2 separate regions of the Homo sapiens genome follow, and region 2 is linked to region 1. Evidence: fine-mapped expression QTL. A gene starts in region 1. The other region holds a variant in brackets. All regions are shown on one strand. Distances are from middle to middle. Region 1 holds the start of CLEC2A (C-type lectin domain family 2 member A). Region 2 holds the start of CLEC12A (C-type lectin domain family 12 member A).

Region 1 (10,624 bases):
TGTTCAATGAAATGTCAGTTACACTCCCCTTCTTTATAATTTCTAAATGGCTAAACACATTGATATATCAATGTTTATGCTACAGTATAAAGGGAAGAATCCAATCCCTCACAAAATGATTACAATGTTTGCTATAGTATCAACAGCGTAAACTTCCAGGACTGTGTTGTTAGGCACTGAAGTCACATAGTGTCCTTTTCTTCCTGCCATCAGGGTCCTGAGGTAAAATTTGGAGAAAGATAGGAGGAGAGCAACAGCTTGTTTCACTTCCTCTACTCCTTCCACACTGCACGTGTTTTAGAAACCGGGCTAATGAAATTTACGTTCTATTTTCGAGGCTGTGCTCAGTTATTTCTCAGGAGGTCCAGTAAATAAAGAATTAATCTATTTGTTTTGTCTTTAGTCAAGTTATGAAACTAGCGAATTATTTACATTAAGTGGATTTGTTGTTGCTGTCGTTGCTGAAACTAGTGAAAGAATCGAGTTTTGTGCTATGAGTCATGGGAGCAAAACGTGAGTATTTAGAAGTGGAGAGGACCACGAAGAAGGAAGCCCTGGTGACTTGAAGAAATCATGGAGAGTTCTCCGGATTCCCACAAACCTATGGGGTTTAGATTCCAGCTAATACTTACACGGGTCTCAGAAGGACAGAGGGCAAGGGTTAACATCTGGCTGATATTAAAGTCTCTGCACCTCTTAATATTTTACTTTGGCCTAGTTTTCTTTTCTTCGCTTTTACATTTCCTGATATAATGAGTAATTCTCTTTTGAGTATTAACTTGTACCATGAACTATGCTAAATATTTTTACCCCTAAATGATGAAGAATTTTTATCATTTTTTGCTGAAATAAATGAGCAAATGAAAGATTGTTTACCTGGGATTATAGTAAATGGTAGAACCACATTTTAAATTCAGCTGGGTCTCACACACATTACAGACATTCAAACAATGTGGAAAATAATATTGAAAAAATAGATGGTTGGCCGGGTGCGGTGGCTCATGCCTGTAATCCCTGCACTTTGGGAGGCTGAGGTGGGCGGATCACGAGGTCAGGAGATGGAGACCATCCTGGGTAAGATGGTGAAACCCCTTACCCTCTACTAAAAAATAGAAAAAATTAGCCGGGCGGGGTGGCGGGCGCCTGTAGTCCCAGCTACTCGGGAGCCTGAGGCAGGAGAATGGTGTGAACCCGGGAGGCGGAGCTTGCAGTGAGCAGAGATCGCGCCACTGCACTCCAGCCTGGGTGACAGAGCGAGACCCCGTCTCAAAAAAAAAAGAAGAGAAAAAATAGATGGTATGTTCAGCATCATCAGAAGCAAATTTTATCAGCATCTCATCTTCTCATTCTCTATGGGGCCGGGATTTAATAGTGTGTAAACCGTGTTAGCAGGTTAAATGCAGGTGTTGTTAAATTATAATTTACATGCTGTACTGTACAAGAACAAAAATAATTCTAAAATTTTCAGATTATTGTGCTACAAAAAATGACCATCGTTAGCAAAAGGAGGATGGGGAATGAGACTTATGCATTTTTAAGGTCATTAAACATCTCCATTAGCCATCTCTGGAGTGGTGACTATCACATTAGAAGGGGACCGCTTTGCATCTCCTAATGATGACATTTCTATCCAGCTGTACTGAAATAGAAATAATGTTAAAAGGAGTCAGAGCGCCCAGTGGAGAAAATTTGACAGGTAAAGAAGAAAAGAGAAAGGAACAAATAATGGGCTGCGGGTTGAATTTTATGAACATGAGCAGAACTTTGAACATTTTTAAGTATAGTTATTCAGGCTAGGTGAGTGGATTGCATCCCCTTCCAACTTATTCTGAGGACAGTACCCAGAGTGAACATATTAAATGTATGTCAGATCACACCGCTATTCTGCTCAAAAGAATTTTCCATCTTCCCATTTCACTTAGAATATTAGCCACAGGCCTCAGAATGGCAAAAACAGAATTACCCTGTTGGTACTTAGCTGAACTCTTCTCTCACTGTTCTCCTCCAGACACAGCTGGCTTCCTCACTCTTTCCGGAATGTGCCAGGCATACATCTGCCCTAGGATCTTCACACAATTCCACCAGGATGATGGTATCCACATGGCACTTTCCCTCCTCAAAGTTCATTTACATTTCACTTTCTCAGTGATGCTTACCCTGACTACCCTATTAAAATTGCAGCTCACACTCCTCAACCTTGACATTACTAATCAATTTTAACCTGGTCTATCTTTTGTTTTCAGTGGAACTTATTACATACTGGAATATGGAATATTGTACCATTTGTTTACTATCTTTAGTCTTTATGTTTAAACTTCCTGGAATGGAAACCCCATGAGTAAAGGAATCTGTGTCTATTTTGTTCACAGACGTATTTCAAGCACCCTGAAAAATGCCAAGTACTAATTAGGCATTCTGTAAATGTTTGTTGAATAAGACAATGAAGAGGCAAATTAAATTAAATACAAAATAGTTTGTTATCCAGGACATTTCTGACTGTATAGCCAAAGCTTTAAAATGAAGATAAGAATAATTTTATAAAATGAATTAGACACATATCAACCCTAGGGAGAATCTTCAAAGTGGTCTGCTCCTTTGAAAAGCCTTAAACAGGAAAGCTTTTATTTAAAGAATGGGCTGGGCATGGTGGCTCACACCTGTAATCCCAGCACTTTGGGAGGCCGAGGCGGGTGGATAACCTGAGGTCAGGAGTTCGAGACCAGCTGGACCAACATGGAGAAGCCTCGTCTCTACTAAAAATACAAAATTAGGCAGGCATGGTGGTGCATGCCCATAATCCCAGCTACTCAGGAGGCTGAGGCAGGAGAATCACTTGAACCCAGGAGGTGGAAGTTGCGTGAGCCGAGATCACACCATTGCATTCCAGCCTGGGCCACAGGAGAGAAACTCCATCTCAAAAAAAAAAAAAAAATGACACTGTGCTTCTGGAAATAACCTAATTATTACCAGAGGAAGGAATTCATGTCTATGCCATACAAGAGCTTTCACCCTTTAGAAGTGTTTTACGGAAGGTCACACACACACACACACACACACACACTGATCAAATTGCGGAATTCTCTGAAGCATACAGAGAATGGCATTTATTCTGGCAAGAACTGTGCAAATTGTTACAAGAAACATAAGGGATGGCAAGTATGAACAATTATATTTCAACAGATGCAGGAAGCAGTTGAAATATGGCTTCTCAACATCTGGGGCTTGCATACTTGTCATCTGGAAACCAGATTGGGTCAGTTACATGTGGAAAGGAATAAGTTATTGCCAGGCCAAATTTCCATATTAAAAGAAGTCTCCATTACCAGATTCTTTTTTTACAGACACCAAATAGACCAGGGAGTTACTAAAAATGGAAGGAGGTCGTGAGAAAGCAAGTCATACTATGAGTAGGACCTCACCTTATGAATTGCCTCTTTAGCAAAATCAACTGCAGAAAGGAAAGACATTGTCTGTTAAATGAAAGGTAATAAATGGAATTCGCAGGTGGACAAAAATACCTCCTGAAATCCCGTAACCCAGCGGGGTACAGATGAGACACGCCCTCTGCAGATACAGTGTGCAACTACCAGTGTGACTCTGAGTGCCCGTTTTCTGTCTCTGCACCGAAGCACCAAAAGCAAAGATTCCAGGCTGAAGCAAATTTTTTTTTTTTTTTTTTGAGACGGAGTCTTGCTCAGTTGCCCAGGCTGGAGTGCAGTGGCACGATCTCGGCTCACTGCAAGCTCCGCCTCCCGGGTTCACACCATTCTCCTGCCTCAGCCTCTCGAGTAGCTGGGACTACAGGTACCCGCCACCAGGCCCGGCTAATTTTTTGTATTTTTAGTAGAGACGGGGTTTCATTGTGTTAGCCAGGATAGTCTCGATCTCCTGACCTCATGATCCACCCGCCTCGGCCTCCCCAAGTGCTGGGATTACAGGTGACAGACACCGCGCCCAGCCAGTTTTACAGCTTTTTATAAAGATAAACATACTTATATGATGCAGCAATTCAATTTCTGGGAATTTATCCAAGAGAAAACTTGCTCACACAAAAATGCCTGTGTACAGCAGTTTCATACATAACAGTCCCACCCTAGAAACAAAAGTCCATCAACTAGTGATCAAAGAGATAATTTCTGGTATAACATGCAATAGGAATACTACTAAGAAATAAAAGGGAATGAACTACTTACCTGCACAACAACTTGAGTGAATCTCAAAAGTATTATAAATGAAATAAGCAAGAGACAAGACACTACATATTATATGATACCATTTATATAAAATTCTATGAAAGGGGCTGGCCGTGGTGGCTCATGCCTGTAATCCCAGTACTTTGGGTGACTGAAGCCAGAAGATCACTTAAGCCCAGGAGTTCAAGACCAGTCTGGGCAATATAATGAGACCTAGTCTCTACAAAAAATAAAATTAGCAGGGCATGATGGTGCGCGACTGTAGTCCCAGCTACTTGGGTGGGTAGGGCAGGAGGATTGCTTGAGCCAAGGAGGTCAAAGTTGCAATGGGCCAAGTTTTCCCCACTGCACTCCAGCCTGGGCAACACAGTGAGACCCTGCCTCAAAAAAAAAAAATTCCATGAAAGGAAAAACTATGTTGATATAAAGCAAAGTAATGCTTGCCAGGGTCCAGGGTCAGAAAAGATAGTGATTACACAAGGAAAAAAAGAAAGATGATGGAAATGTTCCATAGCACGGTTGTTGTGGTGTTTACATGATTGACTTTACGATCCTTTTGTTATGGATGAGTTAATTTTTAAATTCCTTCCTTAAACTAACAAGTCTGCCTACTTTTATCTTTGATCTAAAATTAGTACTGATGTTTTCCATTTGGATTGGTTAAGTCTCTTTTGACTGAAGCTTGCTCAGTGCCTAAATAAGTGATGTACATGAAAAGCTTTCTAGTCCTCTCCTACTGATCTCCATCGGTTAGCGCCTTGCCATGATTAATCCAGAGCTGCGGGATGGCAGAGCTGATGGCTTCATACATCGGATAGGTAAGTTTTATAGAGTGAATGAGAAGGAAGTAAAGGAAAGATAAAACAAAATACAGGACAGCTTAAAAATATGGACTCTTTACTTACTGTGAAAGTCTACTAAAGTAAGTGAGGGATGGGGAAGCACTTCCGGAGAATTGTGGAAGCCTGTTAGAGCATGTAGAGTTTTATGTCTGCAAGAGAGGGTATAAGCTTGTGTGTAAGAAGGTTTTGGGGCAGAATTTTATGGTACGTGTATTATATCTCAATAAGAATATTTTTAAAATGTACTTTCACAGGGAAAAAATTGCTTAACACTTTTATACAGAATAAAAAGCAAATGCTTCACTCTGGAAGGAGGCTTGATGATTGTGACTTCATAAGACTGAAAAGAACTTTTCAAAAATTTTAAGATTCAGCTAAGGCCAACAATGAAGTTTGTTTTCAGTGGATTGAAACATAAACAAACCAATAAATAAAAACAAGGTACACATACAAACACCCTCCATTCACAATAGTTCTGAGGGTTTATGTTAAAGAAAACGAATGAATTGTATGCCAAATGACTGGAATAGGAAGCCTGCCAAAACTTTAAGATAAAGACAGTGAAGAGATAAAAAGTAAAATCTTGAAATGAGTTAAGGACTCCAGCTGAAACCACTATCAGAGTTTACTGATATGAATTCCCAGGGCAATTGGGATAATTCTTTTAATAATAAGTAAGCCTGATACTCTTAAAGGTTGAAGAGACCTCAGTAGCTACCTAGTAAAACTTTTCATCTACCATACGATTTCTAGCTACAGCATTTCTAGCAGCCTATACTAGAATGTTTTCAGTGATAATATCTCTCTGTCTTAGAAGACTTTCCATTTTAATTTAAGGATGTTCTATTTAGAAGTTTCTTTAGGGTAAGGTTAAATTTACTTCGTTGTATATTCTAACTATTGGTCATAGTTACGAACTCTTGATCTATGAAAACTTCATAAGAAAATTTTTAAAAATTAGTCTACATTTTACACAATTGGACATTAGTATTACAAAAAGAAATAAGATTCCATCCCTTTAGCCAAATAAATTAGTCAGGCTTGTCTGGGTAACAGATTTAAGAGTTTAGAGAGTAAAAAGTGGAAGAAAATTTATCTCATTGCATAACGAGAAGACAAAATATGAAGTACTGTGAAGCATGTACTGGAAGATTATGAGAAAGCCGGGCTGCAGGAATCATTAGAACATCTAGTCTGAGAATTTAATTAAAGCATAATAAAAATGCTCCAAAAGAAAAGATATTAATGAAATGAAGAAGCACCAAGAACACAATAAAAACCAAGTGAAAATAATAATTATAGAAATATAGTGTTTGAAATAAAGAACACTTTGAGGAGTTAATTAATAGAATGGACGCTGATTAAGAATGAATAAGACCTAGGAGATGCTATTAAAAACATGACAGAAAAGAAAACAGTTAGAAAATATAAAATAAAAGCTGAGAGATATGAAAAATAGAAGTAGAAATGCCACCTTCTAGATAACAAGAATCTGAAACAGAGAGAGAGAAAAAAAGAATAGCGGATAGGAAATATTTGAAGAAATAATATTCCAACTTCTAAAACTAATAAAAGCCAAATACCTCAAACTGAAACTTCAAAAGTGTACAAACAAAATAGATAAGAAAAAAACATGCATCTGGCACAATAGAGTGAAAGAAAAATATACAAAATTAAAAAATGAGATAATAGGAGACGTTAGTGAAAAAGAGAAGAAATGAGAGGGATAACAAATCAAATGGTGGCTATTAGAAAAGACGAGAGAACTAGATGTCTAAAAGTTTGCAGAAGACGATACAATAAAGAAAATATCAAAAAAGTACAAATAATCACAAAAACCACAAATATTAAAATTTAATAAAACATTATGGAAATAATTCATCAATTATTATGGGGCAAACTCTGTTCCCTTAAAATTTTATATATTGAGGCTCTAACCCCCTCTACCTCAGAATGTGATCTGGTTTGGAGATAGTGTCTTTACCACGTTAAAATTAGGTCGGTAGGTTGGGACCTAATTTAATATTACTGGTGTTCTCATAAAAAAGGAAAATTTAGAGACGGATCCATATACAGGGAGAATGCCATCTTCAAGCCAAGGAGAATGGCCTGGAACAGATTCTTTCCTTACAGGCCTCACAAGGAACCCATCCGACCAACATCTTAATTTCAGACTTCTTGTCTCCAGAACTGTACGACAATACATTCCTGTTAATTTTAGCCGCCCAGTTTGTGACAACTTGTTACGGCAGGCCTAGCAAACTAAAACACTAATGCGCTTATAAATATTAAAAAAAGAAGGTAGAGGTCTAAAAAATATAAAATGCCAAAATGTAATGAGAAGAAATAAATAATTATAGAATTATAGAAATTAAAAATAAATACATTGAAAAGGCAACTAAAATAGAGTAATCTACTGATCTTTCAAGAAATAGCTAATTTTTGTATTGGACATCTTGCTTCAAAAAACAGCAAAATGAGAAATTTACCCCGATTTAATAGACTTTTTGATTTCCAAACAAAGTCAGAACAAGACAAAAAGAAACAGACTCATCTTCTTATGAAATTAGAAGTAGAAATTCCAAGAAAATATTTATTTACTATATACAACAAAGCAGTTAAAAATTCATATACAAGTGGATTTATGTTAGGAATGCTTAGATATCAGAATATCAGTGCAAAAAATATTAAAATTTTTTGAAAGAAAGTCCACACAATTATTCAGTAAGTGCATTTGATAACAACAAGGAAACATGATAACATTCAATGTCTATCTGAGATAAGTCCCTGTTAAGAAACTAGGAATAGAAAAATTCTTTTTTAAATTGCTAATGTTGTATGTTAAATTTATACAGCATTTTTACAGTGCTTAATAATGAAAATTTAAACATTCCATTTAAGATTAAAAACAAGAAAAAAATGTTCACTGTAACTACTACTGTTTAGCAATAGTGTAGTACAATGCTAAAGGTAACCAGTGATATAAGAAAACAAAAGGAATTATAAAGGACAAGGATTGCAATGGAAGAGTTGTATCTGCAATATTTTCAGATAATTTGATTATATAAAAATAAATACCAATAGAATCAACTAGAAAACTATTAAAAATAATACCAGAGTTCAAGAGGGTTACTTAAAAGAGCACATTTAACAAATCAATACTATTTCTGTATACTAGAAGTGTTGTTTTTATTTAGTTTTCTCAGCTTTTTTTTTGTTGTCACTGTGAGAACAGTAGGGATGACTTCCAATCTATTGCAAATATCACATGCCAGAACAGGAATGAAGGACATATATTTTAATTAAAAATAAAAACTGCTAAAGAATTTTCCAAAACACTTATACATTTTTGTACTTCAACCAGTTGTGTATGTGTTTCGGTTCCCCTATATCCTGCTAACACTTGGTGCTGTCAGTCTTTTTCATTTTAACAGTGCAAGTGGCATGTAGTCATATTCCATTGTGGTTTTATTCTGCATTTTGCTTGTGACTAATAATATGGAACATCTTTTATGTGCTTATTGCTCACTTGCGTGTATTCTTCTGTAAGTATTTGTTCAAGACTTTGGTTCTTTTTTTTATCAAGTTGTTTGTACTATATCTCTAAACTACAGACCTTTTAGTATTTTCGATACCAGTCTTTTTTGCATACACATATTGTGACTATTTTCTCCCAGTCTGTAACTTGCATATTTATATTCACAACAGTGTCTTGTATCTTGAAATGGGCAGAGGTTTCTTTCTTTCTTTCTTTCCTTCTTCTTTCTTTCTTTCTTTTTCTTTTTTAAGACAGAGCCTCACTCTGTCACCCAGGCTGGAGTGCAGTGGCATAATTCTGATCACTGCAGCCTCCGCCTCCTGGGTTCAAGTATTCTCCTGCCTCAACCTCCCGAGTAGCTGGGATTACAGGTGCCTGCCATCATGCACAGCTAATTTTTTGTGTTTTTAGTAGAGAAGGGGTCTCACCATGTTGGCCAGGCTGGTCTCAAATTCCTGACCTCAGGTGATCCACCCTCCTTGGCCTCCCAAAGTGCTGGGATTACAGGCATGAGCCACTGTGCCCAGCCCTTAAATTTCAATTAAATTCAATTTATCATTTTCTTTTAATTTTACACTGTACTTTCTCTTCTTTCTCTAAGACAGCTTTACTAATTCTCATGGTCACAAACTATTTTATGTTTTCTAGAAATTGTATGGTTTCAGGTTTTATGTTCAGGTCAATAATACGTCTTAAATAAATTTTGTAAGCTGATGTTGTCGTATGGTAAAGCCTTTTTTTCTCAATTGTTTCAATACCTTTTGTGTAAGACATGGCTTTGCCCACAAATTACTATTTTGGGTGTCTGAAATTTGTGCAGTGGTTTTTATCTTTTCTTCTTCCTTGTTCTTCATTTCTCCCTAATCTTGAAAAAAAAAACACATTTTATGTTTTCTATCTTTAGCTATTGTTTCTCTAGATGTAAGATAAATTACCAAACTCTTCTTCCTATCAAACATTCTCTTTGTAAACATCTCAGAATCTGGCTTCTCTCAATCCAGTCTTGAAATTACTTTATTGCACATTATCTGTAGTCTGGTGATCATGAAAACTAGTAACTTTTTCAAGTTTTCATTCACTAAGGCTGCTTTAAGTTCTGAAGAAAGAGAGAAAACATGACTTCTTTTTAAATTTTTCTTTCTTCAAGTCCTCTTTTCTGATATTTAAATATATGTATGTATATGTACATGTATATATACATACATATAAAGCATATATATGCATATAGGCATGCATACATATATATAATCTGTGTTTATGCATATATGCACGATATACACATATAGTCATGCACCATAGAACAATGTTTTGGTCAATGACAGATTGCATAACAACAATGGTCCCATAAGATTACAATGAAGCTGCCTTGTAAAGGTGTACCATTTTTGATCTTTTATATGGTATTTTCACTGTACCTTTTCTATGTTTAGACGCAAGCATTTAGCATTGTGTTATAATTGCCTGCAGTAATTAGTACGATAACATGCTATCCAGTTTTGTAGTCTAGGAGCAACAGTCTGTAATATATAGCCTAGGTGTTAGTAGGCTATACTGTCTAAGTTTGTGTAAGTACATTCTATGATGTTCCAACAATGACACAATCACCTAAAGGCACATTTCTCAAAATATCTCCCCATTGCTAAGCTATGCATGACTGTACACACACACACACAGACACACACATACACGCACATTCTTCCTAGATTGTTTCTACATCTACTAATGATATATCAGCTACAATTACTTTATCATTAATAGAATTATTATTTGTTCTTAACCTCATAGCATTTCCACGAGTGTCAAATCCTGAGTTTTCTCTAATTTTGTTTGCTTACCACAAATAAATAAATTACTGCTTTTATCTTGAATATTCTCTGGCTGAAACACATTGTTTATTTCCTCCATGGCTTAAAGAATAAAGAAAAATATATCTCTCATTTAAGGTCTTCTGTCATGACCTTATGACTCCTTTCTTTCCTGTCTTTAATCCTATTGCCTTATATATCTGTTATAAACATTTGCTCTAATCGTGGACCTTTTGATGATCTTTA
Region 2 (10,624 bases), 36 kb before region 1:
GAATTCTTGTGGTGGGAACTTAAGGTGGATTGGCAGGAAAAGAGGTGGGAAAGGGTGTGAGAGGACAAGTAAAGGGCAATTGTTGGTAATATTAGGCTCATGATATGCCCATTCTCTTTCAGTGTATAAAAGAAGAAATATAAACAAGGAAATAAAGACAGAAAATATTGTAAAATTCTTAAACCCTTCTTCTTTCTAAAAAAAAATTTCAGTATTAAAAAAGAAGCCAACAGAATTAATCTGCTATCCTTTCTCAAGATTTACAATGCTCATCATAAATGGATCCAAGATGTAACAGTGAAATTTCTGTTTATAGCAATGCTAGAATATTAAAGATGTTATATTCTGTGTGGGGAGAGGAGAGAGGACAACAACTTAAATAATATGTGAGAATTTTGGCACTCTTCTCTCCTTATTTTTCTGTTTCTATCACCCTTCTTTGTGTTCTCCACTATCACTGTTTAAGTTATTTTTAACTCAAATACACTGATTTAAACTATGGATTCGCTAGGGCAGATTTCACTCCCAAAAGGCTAGGAGCCAGAAGGCAAGAACCATACATAATAGGAAAACTATAGGATTCTGAGTAAGATGAAGAGTAGTTTTGTTTAAGTGAAAGTCAACACAGATGGACCACTTATTTCATGATTTTAATTTGAATTGAAAAATACAAAGTTACTTGATATAATGTGGTTTTGAATATTATGAATATATTATGTCTTCTGATATTTCTTTACCTCTTTTCTTCCTTTATTCCTTAATGATTCATTTCATTTAACTTAACATGTTTTATTTTTTAGTAAGTTAGTAAAAAATCTCCAAAAGAAGTAGGAGAAATTTTAGGGTGATTTATGCTTAGTTTGGTAGATAGTCAAATGAAATCCTATAAAGGTCTCTCTGTCTGACACAAAGCATTTTCTTATAAAAAAAAAAACACACACACACACACACATATGAAATCATGACTTTCCTGAACATGTTTCTTTTTCCATGGCTTCATCTCATAAAGAAATAAAATCTTCATACAACCCAATCATTTGAAAAATTCTGTCCCAATTATATTGAGTGTGATAATAAAAAATTTCAAAAATGTAAAAGATTGATTATTCAATGCAGAGATAAGTGTTTTTACAAAACCCTTTTTTCTAATCATTTTGTTCATACACTTTTTGTTCCTTTGCTTAAACATAAGAGACTTAATTGAAAATTTAAGTTGAATAGTAACTATATCACTAATATTGAAGATGCAAGTCTATAACCACTTCTATTATACAAACTTACAACACATCCATAACTCAAAATCTTACCTTTTTCCCCAAATTTGCCAATTTCTGGGATTTTTTCCATCTCACTGGAGTTCTGGAATTGAAGATCTGCATAAGTAACTTCTTCAGACATTGATGAATATGTAAAGAAATCTTGACAAAGTGTAAAAACACAAAAAGATGAGTGAGTTAACAGAGCTGAATGTTAAACAGGACCTATAATTTTAAACTTCTGTTTATAAACGGAAGCTTAAGCTTACAAGTTTAAACTTCTGTTTATAAACCTACTGTACCAATCACCCATATGTCTGCAAATGAGCCAAATCTCATCTGTGGCTTCAGTTAAGAACATTGAACTGTTGCAACAGATAACATCTTTCTTCCTCATATTTCTTCCTTTTTCTCAATTTCTATATATTTACCAACTACAGAAAGTAGTTTTTGAAATTGTGTTTGGATAACATCATCAGTGTCATGCAAGAGAACACAAATAACTAGCACCACATGGTGCAGACATAGTGTAGGATTTATTGGTGAAAAACTTTCAAGCAGAAAAATAACAGAAAAGATGCAGTTCTCAGACACTCACTAATCTGCAGCTGTGGCCTGGCATAGATATTCCTTTTGTATGATGATGAAGGTCCTGATAGAAGGGTTCTCTTCACTGGGAGACTGAACATACAGAGAGCACTCCCAAGGAGAATGAGACAGTTAGTGTCATTCCGTTGCCATGTTACATAGCTATAGGTTTGCCTAAGAGAGGTAGGGAATGCCTAGTTTCTCTAAATAACAATATATAGGTTGGTGCTAAAGTAATTCTGGTTTTTGCCATTAAAAGCAAAAGTAATTGTGGTTTTTGCCATTAAAAGTTTACAAAATTACTTTAGCGCCAACCTATATATTAAGGGATCTGATGCCCAGAAACCACACCAGAGAGTATGCATACTGATGGCCAAGGTCTGTATACTGAGGGCTCTGGAAACAGCTTTGCAGGCCAGGAAAACTATAATCAGCCTTGCTATCTCTCTACAGACTGACTCAACCATTTGATCTCCTCCTCAGCTAAGCTATCAAAAGTGGGAGGGAAATGAGTCTCCAAAGTCCAGATTTGTGTCTTATTAGTTTGACTCAATAGTCTTAGTATTTTTTATTTCACTTCTTGATCAAGAATGCAAGTGGAAGTGAGGGGGTGGAGAGGACTGTTTTTGAGCATGTTCTCTAATATTCGTTAGTAAATCTTACTTTAAAATTCTTCTTGACATTGCCACATGTAAATCATAAAATGGTTAGGTATTATTATTATACATATGAAAGAGAATGCATAAATATTTTTAAAAATCAATTAAAAACTAATTGCTTTATTATGTCAGGATAGACAGGAAAAACAAAATGCTCCCTTTATAAGAGCTACTAAAAATAAATAGGAAAATATTACAGATAGAAATTAACTAGATATTTGCATAACCAAAATGAACAAAAAAATTTTAAAACTATTGAAGAAAAGAAAAAAATAGAAAAACATGCTGTGGGATTAGAAGCGTCAATACTGTATAAAAAGAAACTAAATTCTCCTAAATGTATCAAAAATTCAATGTCAATTTAATTAAAACAACTGATTTTCTCCTGATAAAGAAAAAGCTATTGAATACATTTGAAAATATTACCATGAAAATATTGGCAGCCACATTTAAAGGAAAATATATTCAAAACATGATTACTTCATCCTAAGTACTTTACTAATGTTGCTTTTATCTTTACAACTCTCTAAACCAGGTGCTATTATTATCACCCTTATTTTACAGATGCGGAAGTGAGTTGCAAAGTGGTTAAGTTTGTATCCAACATCACACAGTTGGTGAGTGGTAGAGTTGAGACCATCAAAGTCTCTGGTTGCCTTGTTCAAATATGTGCACAGGCTATAAGGCCTCTCCTGGTGGGAAAGAGTAGCCCTCTATTTTTCCTAGGTGGATCAAATATTTGCATATAAATATTTGTTTATAAATATCTCTTTGTTTGTGAAAGGATGGAAACCGGCCACCACACAGGCAGAGTCCTGTTCTGTGTTCTATTGCTCTGCTGTCTCATGTGGAACGTTGTTTCATCAATCAACACTAGAAGATGAAGCGTATATGACGAACTGTAAAGGGAAACAAATGAAAAATCTCAAAGTCCTGTTTGCAAGGTACTCTATTTTGTTGAAAATATTTGAATAAGTATTACTTCATACAAAATCCTTGGTTTAGAGCCAGCTAAAACATTTATATCCACAAGAATAAGCTGAGCTCTGAGATGACTACATGGTTTGCCCTTCACAGCCTATATCAGTTTTTTAAAAATTTTGTTATTGATACAAAATAGTTGTATGTATTTTGGAGGTACATGTGATATTTTGAAACCTGTATACAATGTGTAATGACCAAATCAGGGTAATAAGAATATTCATTCCGTCAAACACTTACCTTTTCCTTCTGTTGGGAATAGTACATTTCTTCTCTTTTAGCTATTTTGAAATATACAATAAATTATTGTCAACTATAGTTTTCCCACTGTACTATCAAATACTAGAATTTGTTCCTTCTATCTAATTTTATTTTTGTACCCAACCAACTTATCTTTATCCCCCACCACCCCTTTCTAAGCCTCTGGTAACCACAATTCTACTCTCTGCTTCCATGAGATTCATTCTTTTAGCTCTCACATATGAGTGGAAACATGTGATATTTGTCTTTCTGTGCCTGGCTTATTTCAGTTAACATAATGACCTTCAGTTCCACTCCTGTTTCTGCAAATGACAGGATTTCATTTCCTTCTATGGCCAAATAATATTCCATTGTGTATATATACTATAGATACCTGCACTCCCATGTTTATTGCAGCACTATTTGCAATAGACAAGATATGAAATCAACCTATATCAATTTTCATTCTAGTTGAATACTAAGAGACAATCTGCAAATATAATTACAGATGTCTTCCAATATTAAACATAAGTGATACATTATCCATTACCTAAATTATATATTTTTTGTGGGTTGTTATTGTCAGGCCTCTGAGCCCAAGCTAAGCCATCATATGCCTGTGTATATGCCTATGACCTGCATGTACACATCCAGATGGCCGGTTCCTGCGTTAACTGATGACATTCCACCACAAAAGAAGTGAAAATGGCCTGTTCCTGCCTTAACTGATGACATTATCTTCTGAAATTCCTTCTCCTGGCTCATCTTGGCTCAAAAGCTCCCCTATTGAGCACCTTGTTACCCCCACTCCTGCCCGCCAGAGAACAACCCCCCTTTGATGTAATTTTCCTTTACCTACCCAAATCTTATAAAACAGCCCCACCCCATCTCCCTTCGCTGACTCTCTTTGCAGACTCAGCCCACCTGCACCCAGGTGAAATAAACAGCCTTGTTGCTCACACAAAGCCTGTTTTGTGGTCTCTTCACACGGATGCGAGTGAAATTTGGTGCTGTGACTCGGATCAGGGGACCTCCCTTGGGAGATCAATCCCCTGTCCTCCTGCTCTTTATTCCATGAGAAAGATCCACCTATGACCTCTGGTCCTCAGACCAACTAGCCCAAGGAACATCTCACCAATTTTAAATCCAGTAAGTGGCCTCTTTTTACTCTCTTCTCCAACCTCTCTCACTATCCCTCAACCTCTTTCTCCTTTCAATCTTGGCATCACCCTTCAATCTCTCTCTTAATTTCAGTTCCTTTCCTTTTCTGACAGAGATGAAGGAGACGCGTTTTATTCATAGACCCAAAACTCCGGCACCAGTCACGGAATTGGGAAGACAGTCTTCCCTTTGGAATCAGGCAGGGATGCCTGCCTGATTATTCACCCATGTTTCAGAGGTGTCTGACCATGTGGGGACACCTGCCTTGGTCCTTCACCCTTAGCGACAAGTACTGCTTTTCTTGGGAGCAAGAACCCCCAACCCCTTCTCTCCGTGTCTCTACTCCTTCTCTGCTTTTCTGGGGGGCAAGAACCCCACCGCTTTTCTCCATGTCTCTACCCCTTCTCCGCTTTTCTGGGGGGCAAGAACCCCCCAACCCCTTCTCCTTCACCCTTAGCGGCAAGTACCGCTCTTCTTGGGGGCAAGAACCCCCAACCCCTTCTCTCCATGTCTCTACTCTCTCTTCTCTCTGGGCTTGCCTCCTTCACTATGGGCAAGCTTCCGCCCTCCATTCCCCCTTCTTCTCCCTTAGCCTGTGCTCTTAAAAACCTAAAACCTCTTCAATTCACAGCTGACCTAAAACCTAAATGCCTTATTTTCTTCTGCAATGCCACTTGACCCCAATACAAACTCGACAGTAGTTCCACATAGCCAGAAAATGTCACTTTCCATTTTTCCATCCTACAAGATCTAAATAATTCTTGTTGTAAAATAGGCAAACGGTCTGAGGTGCCTGACGTCCAGGCATTCTTTTACACATTGGTCCCTCCCTAGTCTCTGTTCCCAATGCAACTCATCCCAAATCTTCCTTCTTTCCCTCCCGCCTGTCCCCTCAGTCCCAACCCCAAGCATCGCTGAGTCTTTCTAATCTTCCTTTTCTACAAACCCATGTGACCTCTCGCCTCCTCACCAGGCCGAGCTAGGTCCCAATTCTTCCTCAGCCTCCACTTCTCCACCCTGTAATCCTTTTATCACCTCCTCTCCTCACA[C/G]CTGGCCCAGCTTACAGTTTCATTCCATGACTAGCCCTCCCCAACCTGTTCAGCAATTTCCTCTTAAAAAGGTGGCTGGAGCTAAAGGCATAGTCAAGGTTAATGTTCCTTTTTCTTTATCCCAAATCAGATAGCGTTTAGGCTCTTTTTCATCAAATATAATAACCCAGCCCAGTTCATGGCTCGTTTGGCAGCAACCCTGAGACGCTTTACAGCCCTAGATCCTAAAAGGTCAAAAGGCCGTCTTATTCTCAATATACATTTTATTACCCAATCTGCTCCCGACATTAAATAAAACTCCAAAAATTAAATTCCAGTCCTCAAACCCCACAACAGGACTTAATTAACCTCGCCTTCAAAGTGTACAATAATAAAGTAGAGGCAGCAAAGTAGCAACATATTTCTGAGTTGCAATTCCTTGCCTCCACTGTGAGACAAACCCCAGCCACATCTCCAGCACGCAAGAACTTCCAAACGCCTAAACCACAGTGGCCAGGCATTCCTCCAGGCCTGCCTCCCCCAGGAGCTTGCTAAAAGTGCCAGAAATCTGGCCACCTGGCCAGAGAATGCCCGCAGCCCAAGATTCCTCCTAAGCCATGTCCCATCTGTGCAAGACCCCACTGGAAATCAGACTGTCCATCTCACCGGCAGCCACTCCCATAGCCCCTGGAACTCTGCCCCAAGGCTCTCTGACTGACTCCTTCCCAGATCTTCTCGGCTTAACAACTGAAGACTGTCACTGCCCAATCACCTCAGAAGCCTACAGGACCATCACAGACACTCTAGGTAACTCTCACAGTGGAGGGTAAGCCCGTCCCCTTCTTAATCAATACGGAGGCTACCCACTCCACATTACCTTCTTTTCAAAGGCCTGTTTCCCTTGCCTTCATAACTGTTGTAAGTACTGATGGCCAGGCTTCTAAACCTCTTAAAACTCCCCAACTCTTGTGCCAACTTAGACAATACTCTTTTAAGCACTCCTTTTTAGTTATCCCCACCTGCCTAGTTCCCTTATTAGGCTGAGACACTTTAACTAAATTATCTGCTTCCCTAACTATTCCTAGGCTACAGCCACACCTCATTGCCACCTTTTCCCCCAGGTCAAAGCCTCCTTCACATCCTCCCCTTGTATCTCCCCACCTTAACCCACAAGTATAGGACACCTCTACTGCCTCCTTAGCGACTGATCCTGCACCCCTTACCATCCCATTAAAACCTAATCACCTTACCCCGCTCAATGCCAATATCCTATCCCACAGCACGCTTTAAAAGGATTACAGCCTATTATCACTCTCCTGCTACAGCATGGCCTTTTAAAGCCTATAAACTCCCCTTACAATTCCCCCATTTTACCTGTCCTAAAACCAGACAAGGCTTACAGGTTAGTTCAGGATCTGTGCCTTATCAACCAAATTGTTTTGCCTAACCACCCCATGGTGCCAAATCCATATACTCTCCTATCCTCAATATCTCCCTCCACAACCCATTATTCTGTTCTGGGTCTCAAACATGCTTTCTTTACTATTCCTTTGCACCCGTCATCCCAGCCTCTCTTCACTTTCACTTGGACTGACCCTGACACCCATCAGACTCAGCAAATTACCTAGGCTGTATTGCCGCAAGGCTTCACAGACAGCCCCCATTACTTCAGTCAAGCCCAAATTTCTTCCTCATCTCTTACCTATCTCAGCATAATTCTCATAAAAACACATGTGCTCTCCCTGCTGATCATGTCCGGCTAATTTCCCAAACCCCAATCCCTTCTACAAAACAACAACTCCTTTCCTTCCTAGGCATGGTTAGGGCAGTCAGAATTCTTACACAAGAGCTGGGACCGCACCCTGTAGCCTTTCTGTCCAAACAACTTGACCTTACCATTTTAGCCTAGCCCTCATGTCTGCATGCAGTGGCTGCCGCTGCTTTAATACTTTTAGAGGCCCAAAAAATCACAAACTATGCCCAACTCATTCTCTACGGTTCTCATAATTTCCAAAATCTATTTTCTTTCTCCCACCTGACGCATACACTTTCTGCTCCCTGGCTCCTTCAGCTACACTCCCTTTTTGTTAAGTCTCTGACAATTACCATTGTTCCTGGCCCAGACTTCAATCCAGCCTCCCACAGTATTCTGGATACCACACCTGACCCCTATGACTGTATCTCTCTGATTCACCTGACATTCACCCCTTTTCCTCATATTTCCTTCTTTCGTGTTCCTCACCCTGAACACACTTAGTTTATTCATAGTAGTTCCACCAGGCCTAATCGCCACACACCAGCAAAGGCAGGCTATGCTATAGTACAAGTCACCAGCCCACCTCTTAGAACCTCTCATTTCCTTTCCATCGTGGAAATCTATCCTCAAGGAAATAACTTCTGTTCCATCTACTATTCTACTCCTCCTCATAGATTATTCAGGCCCCCTCCTTTCCCTACACATCAAGCTCGAGGATTTGCCCCCACCCAGGACTGGCAACTCTTAACTCCCTCTCAGAGGGGATAGATAATCTTTGCTGGCAGGGGACCCTCCAATACTTTCACCCTGATGAAGTTCTATTCTTTACTTTTATACTCAATCTTATTCTCATTCCCATTCTTATGCCACCCTCTACCTCTCCCCAGCTATCTCCACCACACTATAAACATTACTCATTCTCTCCTAGCTGTTTCTAATCCCTCCTTAGCGAACAAACTCTAGCTTTGCATTTCCCTTTCTTCCAATGCCTACACAGCTGTCCCCACCTTACATGCAGACTAGGCAACATCTCCTGTCTCCTACACCTCCAAACTTCCTTTAACAGCCCTCACCTTTACCCTCCTGATGAACTCATTTACTTTCTAGACAGGTCCAGCTAGACCTCCCCAGACATTTCACGTCAGCAAGCTGCCGCCCTCCTCCACACTTACTTAAAAAACCTTTCTCCTTGTATCAACTCTACTCCCCCCGTATTTACCTCTCACAACACAAACTACTATTCCTGTGGCTGCTCCTTTATGTATCTCTCAGCAAAGACCCACTGGAATTCCCCTGGGTAACCTTTCACTTTGATGTTCCTTTACTCTTCATCTCCAAAGCCCTCTTGTTGTTTACTTATACCCAGCCCCATAAATAACAGTGAAAGGTAGCTCATAGACACTCAACATTTTCTCATACACCATGAAAATCGAACCTCCCCCTCTACGCAGTTACCCCACCAGTCCCCATTACAACCTCTGATGGCTGCTGCCCTAGCTGGATCCCCAGGAGTCTGGGTACAAGACACCCCTTTCAGCACTCCTTCTCATCTTTTTACTTTGCTTCTCCAGTTTTGCCTCGCACAAGGTCTCTTCTTCCTCTGTGGATCCTCTACCTCCATGTGTCTACCTGCTAATTGGACAGGTACATGCACACTAGTTTTCCTTACTCCTAAAATTCAATTTGCAAATAGGACCGAAGAGCTCCCTGTTCCCCTCATGACACCGACACGACAAAAAAGAGTTATTCCACTAATTCCCTTGCTTATCAGTTTAAGACTTTCTGCCTCCACTATTGCTCTCGGTACTGGAATAGGAGGCATTTCAACCTCTGTCACGACCTTCCATAGCCTCTCTAGTGTCTTCTCTGCTAGCATCACAGACATATCACAAACTTTATCAGTCCTCCAGGCCCAAGTTGACTCTTTAGCTGCAGTTGTCCTCCAAAACCGCTGAGGCCTTGACTTAGTCACTGCTGAAAAAGGAGGACTCTGTATATTCTTAAATGAAGAGTGTTGTTTCTACCTAAATCAATCTGGCCTGGTGTATGACAACATAAAAAACTCAAGGATAGAGCCCAAAAACTTGCCAACCAAGTAAGTAATTATGCTGAACCCCCTTGGACACTCTCTAATTAGATGTCCTAGGTCCTCCCAATTCTTAGTCCTTTAATACCTGTTTTTCTCCTTCTCTTATTCTGTTTAGTTTTTCAATTCATACAAAACCGTATCCAGGCCATCACGAATAATTCTAAATGACAAATGTTTCTTCTAGCAACTCCACAATATCACCCCTTAGCATGAAATCTTCCTTCAGCTTAATCTCTCCCACTCTAGGTTCCCACATCGCCCCTAATCCCGCTGGAAGCAGCCCTGAGAAATATCGCCCGTTATCTCTCCATACCAAGCCCCCAAAATTTTTGCCGTCCCAACACTTTACCACTATTTCATTTTTATTTTCTTATTAATATAAGGAGACAGGAATGTCAGGCCTCTGAGCCCAAGCTAAACCATCCTATCCCCTGTGACCTGCACATACACATCCAGATGGCCGGTTCCTGCCTTAACAGATGACATTCCACTACAAAAGAAGTGAAAATGGTCTGTTCCTGCCTTAACTGATGACATTATAAAATTCCTTCTCCTGGCTCATCCTGGCTCAAAAGCTCCCCCACTGAGCACCTTGTGGCCCCCACTCCTGTCCGCCAGAGAACAAGCCCCCTTTGACTGTAATTTCCCACTACCTACCCAAATCTTATAAAACAGCTCCACCCCTATCTCCCTTCGCTGACTCTCTTTTCGGACTCAGCCCACCTGCACCCAGGTGAAATAAACAGCCTTGTTGCTCACACAAAGCCTGTTTGGTGGTCTCTTCACACGGATGTGAGTGAAAGTTATAACGGAAAAAAGGGAAAGAAATGAAGACAGGTGAAGAAAAGTGCACAGGGATAAAAATT

What was found. PIP is the estimated chance that this variant, and not a neighbour inherited with it, causes the effect.
Region 2: its variant is fine-mapped to the expression of CLEC2A in whole blood (TOPMed, PIP 0.98).

What each region holds. Positions count from the first base shown.
Region 1 is chr12:9,926,662-9,937,285 of GRCh38, reverse strand. CLEC2A (C-type lectin domain family 2 member A) reads left to right here and starts at 4,916. Exons shown (of 5, transcript NM_001130711.2): 1 at 4,916-5,011. The coding sequence starts at 4,957. LINC02470 (long intergenic non-protein coding RNA 2470) reads left to right here. Exons shown (of 5, transcript NR_104634.2): 5 at 472-707.
Region 2 is chr12:9,962,371-9,972,994 of GRCh38, reverse strand. CLEC12A (C-type lectin domain family 12 member A) reads right to left here and starts at 1,586. Exons shown (of 6, transcript NM_138337.6): 1 at 1,308-1,586. The coding sequence starts at 1,398. The variant C/G (reference allele first, on the strand shown) is at 5,935.